Linked DNA regions of Homo sapiens: region 2 is linked to region 1. A link means that fine-mapping ties the variant in region 1 to the expression of a gene that starts in the linked region. Tissue or cell type: whole blood. Region 1 holds a variant in brackets; the other region holds the start of a gene. All regions are shown on one strand. Distances are from middle to middle.

Region 1 (8,202 bases):
ACACTATCTCAGAAGACGATGGCTTCCAAAACCTGCTGCTCCAGTGGCCTGTCCCAAGGATCAGTTCAATACTTGCCTATATCCATTTTTTATGGTTTTCAGAATTTTCCATAAATATTATTTATATGGACTGTAACAATAAGGTCAAAGGGACAAATGCTTCCTAAGTGCAGGCTGTTATGGGAAATGTAACCCACAAAGCTGGCGTCTTTTCCATCTGGAAACCGCAAATGACCCAGGCTACTGCGGTACACCACTGGCTCCTAAGAAATACAAATCTGTGCCATTTTCTTTTTGGTTGGCTCTGGAAGTGAAGTGGCCTGAGCATCAGTGGGAGCCGTCTTCTCCAGAGTCACCTTGTCAATGAAGGAGGCAAATTTGTTGTTGAGAGTTTTGATCTGCTCACGCTCTTGGGCCTTCACATTCTGGATCTCTGGGTCAACTTTCACGTTGAGAGGCTGCAGGAGGCTCTGGTTGACAGAGACTTCGTGGATGCCACCAGGGTATCCTCCAGGCCCAAAGCCACCAGGACCCCCTAAACCTCCAACACCACCAGGGCCCCCAAAACCTCCAAAGCGGCCTCCACCAAAGCCGCCTCCACCGAAACCACCACCACTGAAGCCGCTGCCACCTCCAAAGCTGCTGCCGCCTCCAAAACCACCTCCTCTGCCACCAAATCCACCAGCGGCGCCAAAGCCACCACCTCCTCCAGCCACACTAATGGAGATGCTCTTGGTCCCTCCAAGGCCAACAAGACTCCGACTGCCAAAGCCGCCTCCACCGAAGCCCCCGCCACCACCACCATGGCGGCTCAAGCAGGAGAAGCTGGAAGTTGATCTCCGGCTTCCACCAGACACCACAGCTGAGCCGCTGCTGAAGCCCCGGAATCCTCCTCCACCTCCTCCTCTTCCTCGAGATTTGCAAGAGATCTGACAACTCATGATGCCTTTGTCCAGGGAGGAAAGTCACAGGCTCTTGAGAAGAGTCAAGGCTGGAGACTCAACTGTGCTGCTGGGAGGCTTTCAGGGTCCCCTTATATACCTGCCAACTAGGTGTTGTGTACATGGGTGTGGATCCACTTATACGTGGGTTTGGTCTGCCTGGGAGCTATTCCTGGTGCGTGATTATCAAGCTAATAGCCATTAAAAATCTACTAATCAGCTCCATCCCAGAACTTGCTTTGATTGCAAACTTCTGTTTATCTGGGCATCTGTCATGCAATTTGATTTTTGTAAAATCATCAAAAGAGGAGATCAGGGTTTGGGTTTCTCAATCTGGAAAAGGACCTTCTGCAGAATGCTGCTCCCTGTTCTGGACCTGCCCAAGGGAAGTCAGCTACCACCCATGCTTGTGCAGGCTCACCACCCCAGTTCAACAATGAAAGGGATGGTGGGTTTAGAGACTGCAAGAGCCCCTCAATGCCAGCCTTGTAGTTCTCTTGTAGTTTCCCTCTTTCCCAGAAAGAGCCCCAACTAGTGCAGGGGAGACTGCAAAGGTCTTAAATGACCTTAAATGCTAATTGGAAATCGACCTCCTCTTACAGAAAGTAATTGGCCTCGGATACTGCAAAAGAGGTGTCGATTTTCAAAATATCTTGGCTCTTTTCTTCCCATGCCACACCAAAAATACACAATAACTAGGCACCGAATAGAGATTTTTTATAACCATGATGGTTTGTATAACCATCAACTGTCCCTTGTCTACATGAACACCCAGAGGTTGAGAGGTATGAGAAAAGTTTCGCTGTTTCTGGACCTGTGTGATGCGGGACACCAAGTGAAAGTTTGCAAACCAAGATCCAAGTGTATATTGATTCAGTCAGTCAGTAATCACGTATTGCCTGGTGATCCTGGGAAGTGATTAGGAAGTCAGGCTCTTCAATGACATCCACAGATGCTTGAGGATAAGAAGACCATCCAGCCTGCACAGAGCACTCACACTTAAACTCAACCACTTCCTCTGTCCATGTGGCCAACTATGTGGGAGAGGTTCTTGGAGTAATAAAACTGAATTTAGTCAGAAATTCTGGGTTTGAGTCCCAGTTTTGCTATTTATTGGCTGTGAGGCCTTGAATGAAACCCTGAGGCTCTGTGGTCCCAGCTATAAAATGGGAAATTCGTATGAAGTGTTTTGAAAACCACCGTGCACAATAAAATGTCAGTATCATTATTGTTTGGGGTGAGACAAAGATAATTCCTTTTCCTTTCCCCCTTGCCATGTTACTGTCTTCTGGCTACTATGAACATGCACTCTCCACAGGCATCATAAATTACAGAACCAGGTGGTTCAGATCCTAGTACCAAGTTATCACAAAATAATGTAAAAAACATAAGTTTGAGGTCAAATCCCAATTTTCTTGTATCTTAGTTAAATGACCTCAGATAATCCATAATCCTCTTCAAGCCTCAGTTTCCTCATCTATAAAAAGTGAACAAGAATAATAAGAATATGGCTACTGTGAAAACAGAACAATACACACATGTGCTAAACACAGTTCCTAGTTCATAGCAGAAACTCAATAAATGCTATTCACCCTTCTGCATCTTCCCCGCCAAGTTTCCAATCCTGTCTTAACTACTATTCAAGGTATTTAATTTGCAGTAAAAGAATGCTGAAGGAAACAAAGCTACATGTCTCCTCAATTATTTTTTCCAATCTGGTTTGCATAATTATAATCATGCAAACAAATCATGAAGCTAACAGCTTTGGAGACAGTCTCAATCCAAAGCAAAATGTGTCATTATCTACAGATATCTGAGCAATGCCCTAGTCGTCCCTTACTCCACCATGACTGTGCTCACACTATGGCAGCTTCAGGGGGGTCTTAATGCCTCTATGAAGGAAATTGAGCCAGATTTGTGCTAGGCACCCAATCTGCATGTTTTACTGCATTTTAATTCTGCCCTCACACCCTGGTCTCCCTCCCCACTCTCTCCACTGAACATCTTCTCCTTCTAGACCCATTCACCAATTTTTGAAAGTCAAGTTGAAAGAGTCCTCCTACTCTTTTGAAATGTGGAGACTAGAATTAATGCAATTTGAATATTATGTAACATTTTATTTCTATATTTTTAAATTTTCAACTTTTACATAATCTCAATGTGCTTTCCTAGATAATATGCTTTGCATTCTTTAAGAGAGTGAAATGGAAGTTAAGAATCTTGGTCTGGTTGTGATTTTGCCTCTACGCAACTGGTATCCTCAATTTCTTCATCTATAAAATAGGAATATTTATCCTGAATCCCTACTGTCCCACAAGGACATCGAGCTATTGCTGCAAAGAGTGTTAAGCTTCACTGTCTCTGAGAAGAGAACAGGAATCCTATAGAACAAAATCCTTCTTCCTGTTCCCCACTTTTTCTTTCAACAAACTGCCAGCAAGTCCAAGATCCTAAATGCTTCTCCTCATAGTGTTTCAAAAGCTCGTCTATTGGCCAGTGGGGCAGAAAAAATGAGCCCCCAGTATTAAGCAGAGAAGGGGTTAACTGTCTAGCCAACAGGAAATAAATGCTCAACCTAGTGTGGATGCTAACACCAGAGTCTCCAGGTAAGAATTCATTTCCCTCTCTTCTGTTCTCCTTTAGCAGTGGCGTATCTACCTGCCTTACAGCCTCATCATCACAGTCCTCCCTGTGTGACAATGAACCATGTCCCAGGACTTCTGTAGGGTAGAGGCAAGGTCATATTTATCTTTAACCCAAACCTTTATCCCCTCAGCACAGAGAATCACTTGAAGAATAAGCCTGTATTCCAAAAAAATCATTTCTCTGGTTTTTGGTTTGGAATTGCAGGTGTTTCCAGATGTGTGCATGTGATGCTGGCAATGCTTGAAGTCTTCGCAGCCTTTCATGGACCTGTTGCCTAAAGGTCCCACTTGGAGTTGTCTCAGGTTTCTGTCTCAGCCCTGATCAGGGTTCTCTCCTCCAGCCAGTGAGTTTAGTCTCTCCTTCCCAAAGACTCAGTGCATCAGCTGGAGACGGCTGCTGAGCCCTCGGGGCATCTGGCTCCTACCACCTTGGAATGGAAACCAAGAGTTTGGGTTTAAGAAAACCGAACCAAAACAAACAAAAAAAAAACCCTCCTCTTCCAGCCCCTGCTGCTGG[G/T]CTCAGGCTGCTCAAGAGGACCAAAATCCTTAGAGAGTCCAATAACGTCATGAAAGAAGTTAGGAAGACAGAGAGGCGAGTCAGCAGGAGGCTGGAACAAGCTGAGCAGCAGGTCAGCTGGAAGCAGAAGCCTCCATGGGCAGCGGCTGCCTGGCCTCTGCATGGGCTGCTGGCTCCGGGTACCTTCCATCAGAGCGCCCAGGTGCTGCTCCAAGGAGCTCTGCAGCTCCCATGGCTCCCAGAAAAGAAGGGACAGGAGGCTGACAGACACCCAGCAGGAGAGACTTGCTCAACACCTCCCTCCAGGGCATTCCTTCATAAATGATCATTTTAAAACTGCCTACTCAGTCTCTCTTCCCAGCCCCTGACCCAGTTCTCCATTTTGGCCCAGGCTCCCCTCCTTTCTTACCTAACATCTCCTTTTCAGTTTTTTTTTTTTTTTCGATCGGCCCCTTTTCTTACAGCGAGACAGGTAGCTGTTTGATTTTCAGGTGCTCTGGCCAAACTGGTTATGACTGAGGAGCCAGGCTGGCAGGCAGCCACGTCCACCCTGAGCATGAAGCACCAAACATTCCCACTGTACAGAGCCCATTCTGGAACGAGGAGATTCCAGGACACACACGGCAGGCTTATCAGGAAAGCAGGATGTGTCCTCTGCTCAGAAACAATGCTGGCCCCAGAAGCAGAAGAGGAGAGAGGGCAGGGACACTGCCCAGTGCACAGCAGGGACCCTACACATGTTGGTTGAACAAGACAGCTGTCTAGCAAGAGGATATGAGCCATCAGCGCCTAGCACAGAGCGAGTCACCTCCTTTCCCATAGCCAAGGCCATGTCATGTATAGGTCTAATTTTCCAAATGGACCCCAGAATATCTGACCCAGAAAATGGCAAGTGACACAGTTCAGCTTTATTCTCAGTGGGATCAGTCTCCAGTTGAATTAGCTCTGCTGTATGCCATAGGCTACTGCAACTCCCGGGGGCCTGGGCCTTGTTTGCTAAACTGTGGTCTAGTTAATGATACTAGTGTGACATGTGGCTGTGTGTTCCCAACTACAGCAAGTCTTCATTCACACAGAGAAAGCCTCAAAGGGTCGTCTGTGAAAAGCTCTTGCCCTTCCCAGGTGCAGTCCTCACTCCAGCCGAACTGTTTCCCCGGACCACGTTCTCCTTCTGCTCTTGCACTGATATTCATATTTTGTCCATGATCTGTGTAGCCACACAAATGTGGAAGGACAAGACAGCTGTGAAATACTCCATCCCATCCTGGTCATGATTTCAGAAAAATGGAGTCGCTGTAATCATACCACTCACGCCACCCTCACAGTGCAGACTTCTCCAGGTTTCACCAGATTTAATGCTGCCCCCTTCTTACCCAACTTCTCCATCTAGAGGAGCCTTCCAACTAATGCTATATTGTGCTGCTGCCACTGACAGCTGGAATTCACTTTGGATGCCTCCACCTGGGCATTCGCCAGTTCTTCAGCAGCAGCCTGTGCCATGCACCACAGGAAGCTCTAAGAGACATCCCAGCCCTCACCTGCTCTCCCACACCAGCCCCACCTCTCTGTCCCATCACTGAGAGCTGCCGCCACCCCCTTGTGAGCTCTTTCAAGGCTTCCTGCATTTGTTCGGATAGAGATCATTGCAGAAGAAGGCAGGTGGGAAAACATCCCCCCACCAAAAAATCAGAGAGAGAGTAAGCATGAAAGTTAATTGAATTTTATAAGACCAAATTCAAGAGACTCCTGCTCCTCTTTCTAGCAACAAAGGTTTTAGACACACCGTCAGACTGTGGGTGCTGGGATGCCTCACGTTGGAAGCAAAGGCCAAAGGCTTGATTCTGAATGACCTGATTGCTCCAGGGATTTTTATGAAGCAAAGAAAAAAAGGAAAATAAAACTGCTCAAAATTCTCTGGACGGCTTTTTTTTTCCACCACAGGCTCTTCTTTAAAAGCCTTTCAATTCTAAAAAAGCAGGTGGAATCATTGCTAATTAAGCAATTAATGTTTAACAGAGCTAGTATAGTCATTCATGTGAGATTATTAAATTTACGACCTGAATTATATTTTTATGAGCCATAGGCACAATTCATAGTCCATTGGGTATTCAAAGAAGTATATTAGTCTCTATTTAGAAGTACATTTATAAGGGAAGCCATGTGATAAACTGGGAGGAATGTGTTTAGGAGTGAAGGTTGGGTTCCTCTGCCAGAAGCCAGCCCTGTCACCTTGGCATGTCACCTCCCTTGCTGGGTCCCCCTTTCCTCCCCTGTGGACTGAGGGATTTGAAAACCAACAGGAACAGGGTGACTCCTAGATAAGGAGGTAGAGGACATGCATTCCTGTGGCCAACTGCCTCCAGAACCTAAGGAACCTCAGCTTTTCTGAGCCTTGATTTTCTCATCTGTAAAGTGGAGGCGCCGGGCTACACCGATTCCTTCCATTTCAGACATCAGTTTGTGCTTTAAATGGACACAATAGCTAAAGCCCTGAGAGCAGATGCAAACTCTGGGAAAGCGTAGAGACAAAATGTGCAGACACAGACCCTGCTTTCGGTTATTTTCTCACCAAGAGATGAAGGAAGAAATGGCAGCAGTAAAGTAGACAAAGGGAAGCCAGAGAGGAGAGAGAAGGGCAAACAGGTACGCTGCAGCTGAATAGGAGGGTTTGCCATCAGGCAGGAGCTGCCATCAGTCAGGGCCCAAAAGGCACGAGTTCATTATATCTTGATTCCCCAACTGTAAGCTCCTTAGGGGCTTATATCTCTTGTTTTTCTCAAGGATACCAAGAAGTAGAGTAGATCCATAAATAACTGTCTCTTTGAAATAACCTCTCACCATTTCCAAAAGCTAAACAAAGTTTCTCAGATCCTGGTCCGTTGCTTCTCCTTTAATTCTTTCTCTTCCCTTGGGCTCGGCATACCCGGGGCAGGCAGAACCTTACCTCCTCTTCTGGAGCTCCATGTCAAGCACTAGGGAAAGTTTTGTGGAAAGTTTGCCTGGGTTTGGAGGGGGCTCTGGGTGTGTAAAATCTCCAGGTTCTCTCCCCTCCCTTGGGTGGGCATTGCTTTGCTGCTCCTGGCTCATGCCTAGACACCCTGCCTCGTTTGGGTTTGCATGCTTCAGGCTGTGTCTCTCCCACTCAGATCAAGACCAAAGATGCCAATCTCATTGGCTCTCCAATAAGACCCTTTGGAAGTCTGTATGGTTCTGCATGGACCCGCCTTCCCCACCAGGCCTCCACATGGGCACTCAGCTGGCACTTACACACTACAGCCTATATGCTGGGGGCTTCCCAGGACCCCTCTTTCAGGAGAGGCTCCAGACACCCACTCCTTCTGGTCAGGAGTCCTCTGGAGGCCCATTAATATATCCATGAACTCAGCTCGCTGTCCATATATTGGAAGACCAGATGTTGCCTGCACTTCTCTCTGTACAGGGATTAACTCCATGCCATTCATACTATTAGGGAGAAATAAGGTTTTTCTGGTAAGGAAAAGAGAGGTGATAGTGACAGAATTTTAGAATGGGGACATGATGGCAGGCTTGTCTGGGCAAATCCATGAAACCAGATTACTGCCAACATTTTCCACTGCCTGGTCCTGTGCAGACACTAATCATCAAGACACACGCAGAGGCCTTTGCAGTGTCTGATGTTCTGGGTTTCTGCTCAGGCCCAAAGGGGTAGAGACGTGAGTGGGCAAGCACAAAAGAGGGGAGGGCTGCTGTGGGGGTGGCGGTGGGCCAAGGAGGAGTTGGCAGGGGCAGTATAGTAGACTATCATACTGAATGTGAGGAAAAGGGGATCCTCCCTCCTCCCATGTCCCAGGGAGTTCATGTCACCCACTAGAAAGGCCAGGGAACGTGAGGATCCTTCCCCACCACTCGGAGTGTGAATACAATGGGCAGCCTCTTCGGTGTGGCATTGCCAAGACAGCAGAGAACTATCTGGGGCCTTGTTAATACCCAGTTTCAGAGGCCCTCATCCTGCTCTCTCTGGGGACAGAGGCATGGACACAGACTGCCATGTGTGGTACTGAGCCCAGATACAGCCAGAGCAGGAAGGTTGGGCAGGGGGCCCTTGCCCTGCCTATACCCA
Region 2 (8,172 bases), 25 kb after region 1:
TGAGTCAAGGCTCCTACAACCCTTACAGACTTGACATTCTTCTAAACACCTACTCTAAAACCTCCTGGCTGCCCTTCCTCTCACTCCCCAACTCTTAAGTCCACTTTGGGTCATAGGCTAGATCACTCACATTGACCATCCCATCTTTCTCTACTAGGCCATTCTCACAGATTTCCCTAAAGAGAACCCAGCATGATGGCTGCATTCTGGAAACTAGCATAGTCACAAAAGGAACCAGGGATAATAATGTAGCCTTGGGATGAATTGCAAGATTCAAAACTAGGAAAGCACTCGCCCTTTACCTGAGGGTTACCCCCATTCCATACAGCTGAGTGGTAGAAGGAGAAAGCACATACCTGCTTCTTGACATTGTCGATTTCAGATCTAAGTCTCTGGATCACACGATTCAGCTCAGAAATTTCTATCTTTGAATTTCTCACACTATCCCCATGTCTGCCAGCAGTGATCTGCAGCTCTTCATACTAAAGATGGTAGATAGCGTTTGTTAAATGTAGGCAGAACTCAGCATGGCACAGGCACACATACATGAGATAACACAGGATAGCAAGACAAGCCATTTCAGGGAAACTGGCTAGGCTTTCAGCCCACTCACCTTGCTCTGGTACAAGGACTCGGCCTCAGCTTTGCTCTTCTGGGCTATATCCTCGTACTGGGCCTTGACCTCAGCAATGATGCTGTCCAGGTCGAGACTGCGGTTGTTGTCCATAGAGAGGATGACATTAGTTTCACTGATTTGAGTCTGCATCTGAGACAACTCCTGCAAGACATAATAGGTTAGTGACTCTTACAGCACTAAAACAAAAAACAACTTAGACAGAGAAAGCAGTCAGAAAATAAAAGATAAATATCTATTCTTCTGAATCGTTGTGGGTTCAGGCTTAAAAACTCTCCATTTAGATAAACTTGGTTGAAACTGGAAGACTTACTGCTTGGTAGAGTGCTGTAAGGAAATCAATTTCCTGCTGCAAGTTGTCAAGTTTGGCCTGAAGGTCCACCTTGGTCATATAAGCACCATCCACATCCTAGAGGAACAAGGGACATCATGAAGGCACATTCTCTCCAGGGCAGGTCCCTCTCATTACCTGTGAGGGGATTCTCCAAGCAAAAAAAGGAGCTTTGGGTCTACTCCACTCCTTTTTGCCCCAGGTAAATCACAGTTCCCTAACTGTCCCACCCCCGGATAGCACCATCAAGGGAGTGTGCCTGGCTTGCTGAGAATCTGCCACTCCACTTACTATGTAAGGTGCTGGGAAATATGGAGAAGCCAAGTGCCTGGATCAGTCCAGGTCCATGATGATGTGAAAATATAGCCCCACTCCATATACTCCCCAGGTCTACTACCTGGCTCTCCATATCATGGCTGCTTTCTGCTTAGTAATTGGAGACCCTCTTCCCTTATTTATTTCAAATGTGAGTTCCGTCCTACAGAATTTGCTTACCTTCTTGATGGTCACAAATTCATTCTCTGCATTTGTCCGCTTGTTGATTTCATCCTCATACCTGCAGGAAAGCAGAAACAATTAGGAGATTCAGAGGTGGTAAGACCTGAAGTCCAGCATTCTAAACTAAAGGTGGCATTGCCTATCACTGCCTTTCTATTATGAACCTAGGACATATTGGCCACTACTTTCTACTGAGCAATAAAACCACTAGACTATTTCCATCTCCTGAGAAAATGAAGATTTCTGAAAATGTCAAACTGATGTGCCTCTAACCTAAGAAAAGACATAGCTACATGCTGCTTCATGATCTTAGCTTATTACTTTCTGGAACTCTTTTACAGCAAAAGTTAAGAACTGCCCAGACAGGGTCCCTTACTTGTTCCGGTAATCCTCCACCATGTCCTGCATGTTCTTCAGTTCCGAATCCAACCGAGATTGATCACTCTTCAGTTGGTCCACTCTCCTTCGGAGATTGTTGATGAATGACTCAAAGTAGGGCTCTAAATTATGGGTTCTAGTGGAGGTATCTACCTGCTGCAGCAGCTCCCATTTTGTTTGCAGTACCTGGTTCTGCTGCTCCAGGAACCTCACCTAAAAACACAAGACCCCTTTACTCCTGATGCATAAATGGAGTCTCATAGCCATGGAGAACTGTGCCTCATTTGGAAAAGAACCTCAATTCCTATCTTCTGACCATGACAGAGAAATAGGAAGAAGATGATCAAGTTAATATCATCTGCATAATAAAACCCAACTTGTTAATTCAGAGAGGGCTTGGAAGGGAGTAACTAAACAAATACCAATAGCAAAGCGCATACAGAATTATTGCAATTATGTTTTGAAATAGGTGCATGGTATTTAAGAGATTTGCCTTCCAAAATTTTGTTAGGTATATTACCATAAAAACTGGTTTGCATCCCCAGGACACACACACATTTCAAAAGTATATCAGGAAAATTCAAAATTGGATTTGAAATTTGTTGTGGATAACCTTGGATTGGCACTATTAATGATTAAGCAAAAAATTAAAAAAATGGTTTATCTGAGTTTTTTAGAGCTGATTTTTGGAGATATTAGTATAAAAAAACTCTAGCCTCATCCAGTACCAATGTAAAATTATTAGAAGGCAGAGCTCCCCTCTGACAGCAAAAGATGTTTGGCACTGACTGACCACATGTTTTCTGCTACAATAACACTCTATACTATGTTCACACTCAACTCCCTTTCTATGGTTAGGAAGACCTTTCCAGGGTTCTCACTTGCACCCTGGAAAGTTCAGTTAGCCCCATTTCTATTATCTTCATTCAACAGATATGAGTCCCAATTCCGCTCAAGAGCTGAATAAAAAGCACTTAAATGTTAATGTCACACTGACCCACCTTTAGGTCGACCACGAACCCTTTGTCAAAGAGAGAGTCATTAACACCATTCACAAGCATACATCTAACATATCTCCTAGGAGACCATTCCACAAAACATCCTTTTAATCATGTAAACATGGAAACTTGAGGTTCAAACCTACTGTGTTTTGACTGCACCAATCCCAAGTGGACCAGCGGCAGCCCTACCAGTGCAATGAGAGAGAAACTCACCTTGTCAATGAAGGAGGCAAATTGGTTGTTGAGTGACTTGATTTGCTCCCTTTCTCGAGACTTCACCTTTTGGATCTCAGGGTCAATCTCCACATTGAGGGGCTGAAGAAGGCTCTGGTTGATAGTGACTTCTTGTATGCCACCAGGAGGGCAGACAGGACCATAACCACCCCCATATCCACCACCCCCAAAGCCACCTCCACCAAAACCACCACCACCACTGCCAAAACCACCAAAGCCACCACCCCCAATGCCACCTCCACCAAAGCCACCACCACCAAAGCCACCACCACCAAAGCCACCACCACCATAACCACCACCAAAGCCACTACCACGTCCACCTCCTCTAGCCACACTTATGGAGATGCTTTTACTGCCACCAAGGTTAACAAGACTCCGACTTCCAAATCCACCACCAGCACCAAAGCTACCACCACCACCACCACAGCTTGAAAATCTCCCACCACCTCCTCCACTGCGGCGTGTGGAGCTGCTGGTGGTCCTGCGCTGGTAGTTGATGATCCCAGCAGAGCCAGAGCTGAAGCCCCCTCCACTTCGGTACCCAGACCTGGAACTAAACTGTCGACTCATGTTGACTTAGAGAAAAGTAGGAGCAAGGTAGAGTAAGGGAAGGAGCTAAACACTCCTCTACCCCAAGCATAGAGACTTCCCCTTATATACAGGGAAGAAATTGGGCTTGGTCTTCTAGAGTCAGCGGAGATGCAGTGCCTGTCAAGGGTTTGGCTTGCCTGCAGCCATACAAGATTTTTACGAGCCTCAACAATACGATAAACACTACACACCTAGCTCCCAGGATGGGCTCTCAAAATTGCTGTGCATGCAAGATTGGTTCATGTGGTAATTATTTTATCACACAAGATCTTCCTTCAAGCATTTGTGGCTTTGGGAAAACAGGACCCCACATCTGATACCTGGTGTTTCTTGGTAGGATTTCATAACCCCCATCAAAAAGGCATGAAAGTTTCTATTCTCACCTTGCCTTTGTGAGCTACCAAGCACACTCTCTTACCATGCACAGCAGGTGCAATTCCCCGTGCTTGGATCTCAGAAGGAGCTCTCTGGCCCATTTCTAAGATCTTCTTTCCAAACTCCAGAGCTCACTCAGTTACAACCTGACAAAGAGAAAGGGCTTTAATAACTAAAAAATTAAAAGGTCTTTCATAAATATAAGCTTTATAAATATACCACAGTGATTAATTAAAGGAAGAGAAGCTGTCATTGAACAAGATGGATGAGTGGGTGGTCTGGAAGAACCAGAAGGGAGAGACATTTTTTTTCTCTGTTTCTCAGTTATTCCTTTTCTTGTTTCTTTTCTTCAAAGATAGAGCAGGAGACAGACACCAGCAATAGAAAACAGGTAGCAATGGATAGCATGCAAACGCCCTTGAGTGAAAAAGCCCACAGAGCAGTGAGACGAGTAAATAGAAGCTCTAGGACATTTTGTAAAGCACAGGGGTGGAGGTGAGGCTTGATAGGTGATTCAAGCCTCACACTGGACTGCAAAGAGAGAGAGATAAATGCAGATTTGGAAGGGAAGACAATGAGAGGTGTCTGGAGAGCCTTATATGAGAAGTTTAAATTGTTTCTGGAGGTGATAATAATGATAATACCTAACATGTATCAAAAACTGACCATGTACCAGGCACTGTTCTACGTAGCACATATGTATTAACTTGCTTAATTTTCACAACTTTGAGATAGATGCTATTTTTCTCCCCATTTGTAAAATGAGGAAGCAGAGACACAGGGGTTGAATAACGTGATCAAGTCTACACAGTTGGTAAGTGGGGTGCCTGCGATTTGAAGCAAGAATACCTAGCTATCATGTGCAAGATCCTAAACAGCATGTTGTACGACAGCACAGCAGCCGAATTCAAGTCATTCTGCCTGCTGTGTGTAAAGCCAGACAGCACAGGAAGCGCCCCACCACAGAGAGCTCTGAGGGCAGAAGGCCTGTTTTATCACTCTGAGTCCTTGGCTCCTGGCACATGCAAGTCTTGGAAAATGTTTCTTCAATTCACACTGAGAAGGAGATTTTGGTGGCACAGAGTTTAGTGAGGAGATTTTACTTCCATCCAAGTGCAAGAGTACCCAGCATGCATTGCAATGGACCAGGAAACCTCAGGGGTCTTCCTGGAGAGCAGCACTTGATCAATATCAGTGGATAATAGTGGCACTGAGATCTGGACACACTAGAAGCCCAAGCAGACTTTCATTCGAAGACTTCTTAGAAGCCTGGCATGGTCCCCGGGCCTGCACATAAACACAGAATTGAAGACTCAAAGGGGAGAAGCCAGCTCTAACTTCAGCTGGCTCCAAGTAACTCTGTAAGTGGCAAACCATAGATGTACATGGGAAGTCTCCACTATGGTGTGCAAGATCTATGGGAGAAAGGGAGTCTGTGAAGATCATCTGGTCCCATTACTCTGTGGCTCTGAATCGGGCTGGCTGTGTCGGTCCTCTCCATTGCACTCCGCTATTGAACCTTGTCCCTCTTCTCCTCCCAGTTTTTGCCCTATACCCTCCTCCAGAAAGTGCCCCTCACCGCTCCCCTGCTACTCCTCTCCCTCGCCATCACTGTGGCACTGCTGTCTGGGACTCTGTCCTAGCACTAAAATCCTTCGGCTGCTAAACCAACCATCTCTTTAGGGAATGAGTAATTCAGGTCTTGTTAGGAACAATGGAGACTGGGACAGTCTTGGCATGGTAATGACTGTTGCCTAATCATTTTCTGACAAGCAATCAAAATTATTTTAGTTCAGCATACTCCCTCATGAGACATATTGTTCTGCACAATCGATTCCTTCTAGCATTTTGGAGGGGTGTGAGTATGTGTGTGCACACATGTTTGTGTGCACACATGTTTGTGTGCATGTGTGTGCCAGCCAAAAACAGACCTTGGCAGTGATCCACACTCCCATCTTTGAACTAAGAAACTGACATACAGAAAAATCAAAGGTTTGAATGAATGGTCAGGGAATTGGTAGACAACTTAGCTGCAAAACATACCCCAGGTGCTCCTGTGAGAAGGGAGAAATGCAGGACTAGCAGGAATAAGTGCCATAAACCTCACCATAGCTTACATTTGCACAGCTCACCCCACCAAACACATATGCAAAGAGCATCCCACAAGAGCCCTGAGAACTAGGCAATCAAGCTGTTCTCAACCCATTTCATGAAACAGAAAACTGATTCTCAGAGATTAAGTGGCTTCCTCTAGACACTCCGGCTAGGAAAAGACACATCTGGAAGCAGAATCTGGGTTTTCTGATTTCAATTCAAGTGACATTCCTCCCTGAACCGGGAAGAGGCTCAAAGACAGGCAAGTGGAACTGGGCCCTATAAACAAGTACACAGAGAATTACAGAATGTTCTCATCCATGGGGCCTCAAAGGTCACATCATCTAACCTGCCTCACAGAGAAGTGAGAGCACAGGCCCAAAAAAGTAAAAAAAAAAAAAAAAAAAAAAAAAAGTGTCCAAGTCATAAGTCAATTCCTGAGACTCTTCCAATTGTTGAATCAAACTCCTTTTCTTTTTCCACTGCCCACTTTCGAGGCAGCCCAACAGAGCTGGAGCTGCAGTGCTGCCAGACCAGGCCCGTCATCTCCTGTGATGTCCCCAGGATCAGTGTGGGTGTGTGGGATATGAAGAACCACATGCAGGAAAGGTGTGAGCCACACACTCTCTCCTGGCTTACTTATGTACTGTGCATTTATGAAATAAAGACAAAATGAGAAAGAAAGAGACACTAACATCTACAGGCAGCAACTATGCTGTTAGGAGCCACATTGCATTTAAATACCACACAAAGTCTGCGTCGTGGGAGCTCTTAGCCCCATTTTAAAGAAAAGGCATCTTAGGTTTATAGAGGTTGAAATATGTGCCCAAAGTCATCCAGCAGGTAACTGACAAGCCACGCTTGCCTCACTCCAGAGTCCAAGCCCGCCGCATCACATGGGCTCCTTCTGTCATTGGCCTGCTCTCACCACCAGCACCACCTACATCTTACCCTGCTCACCCACTCCCCCGGCCTCACGCCTTGACCCCTTCACTCTCGTGCTTTGCCCAGACTGATCAACCCTCTTCTTCCCTTTCCATCCCTGTTCCTCTCTGTCTTCCAAGCCCACTTCTACTCTTCTCTTTTCTGAAAGGTCTTCTGGTTGCCTCGGCAACTTGCCACAAATCCCTACCCATAGTCAAGCTCTGGGGCACCAAAGATCTCAATTCCTGAGCATTTGGTCCTGAATCTGTTTTTGGTCCATCAGGGCTTGTGGGCAAATGCCTTCATCTCTCGCTCAAGCAGGCAGCAGACAGGTCCAGATCTCATCTCCTCCAGGGAGTTTTCCTCAGTCCACATCGGGCAAGTGCTCTATTGGTCTCTTTTTCCAAGCTCGGCTGCTGCCAGACTTAGTACATATTGATGCATTTGTTGGCTCATTTTCATGCATGTGCTTGTGTGTTTCCTGGCCCCTCAATCACTCTGGAAGCCTTTGGAAAGCAAGACTAAGTCCCCTGTGTCTTTTGATGTCCTCCCAGCATCCCACATGGCCCCTTATACTTGAGAGTTACCCCAGCGGTGCTGGATGACAGAGCACCAAAACACCCCCACCCAAGGACTCACACACACAACCCAGAACTGATCATTGAGATGAGGCTGCCAGGGGCTGGCTGTGGGGCATGGGCAGGAGCAGGTGTGGTGATGTTTTGAGAGCTTTTGTGGGATGGGACCAAGAAAAGAGTGAAGAAAGACATGCAGTGACAAGCCACCCAGCCCTGAGGGACTCCACCAGGGACATGGGACAGGGAAATCCCAGGGGAGTGAGGAAAATTGAGGCCTGGGTGGAGTGAAGAGAAATCACAGACAATGGGGAGGCGGGGCGAGATGTTGAAAGCAGCCAGGCAGCAGAGGAGGGGCCAAGGCTTCTTATGCAGGAGGGAGAGCTGCAGACAGAGGGGCAGCCCTATTTAGGATGGACAGCAAAGAAGGAGGTCCTCAGGAGTCACTCACTAGCAAGGCTGGAGCAGAGCAGAGGCCAGGAAGGAGGAAACCAAAGATGAACATGGAGGAGAGAGGCGGTGGGGCCCATCTTGCTC

What was found. PIP is the estimated chance that this variant, and not a neighbour inherited with it, causes the effect.
Region 2: KRT1 starts here. The variant in region 1 is fine-mapped to the expression of KRT1 in whole blood (TOPMed, PIP 0.98).

Annotation. Positions count from the first base shown.
Region 1 is chr12:52,651,202-52,659,403 of GRCh38, forward strand. KRT2 (keratin 2) reads right to left here and starts at 1,010. Exons shown (of 9, transcript NM_000423.3): 1 at 357-1,010. The coding sequence starts at 941. The variant G/T (reference allele first, on the strand shown) is at 4,104.
Region 2 is chr12:52,676,703-52,684,874 of GRCh38, forward strand. KRT1 (keratin 1) reads right to left here and starts at 3,705. Exons shown (of 9, transcript NM_006121.4): 1 at 3,056-3,705; 2 at 1,840-2,054; 3 at 1,461-1,521; 4 at 948-1,043; 5 at 614-778; 6 at 357-482. The coding sequence starts at 3,646.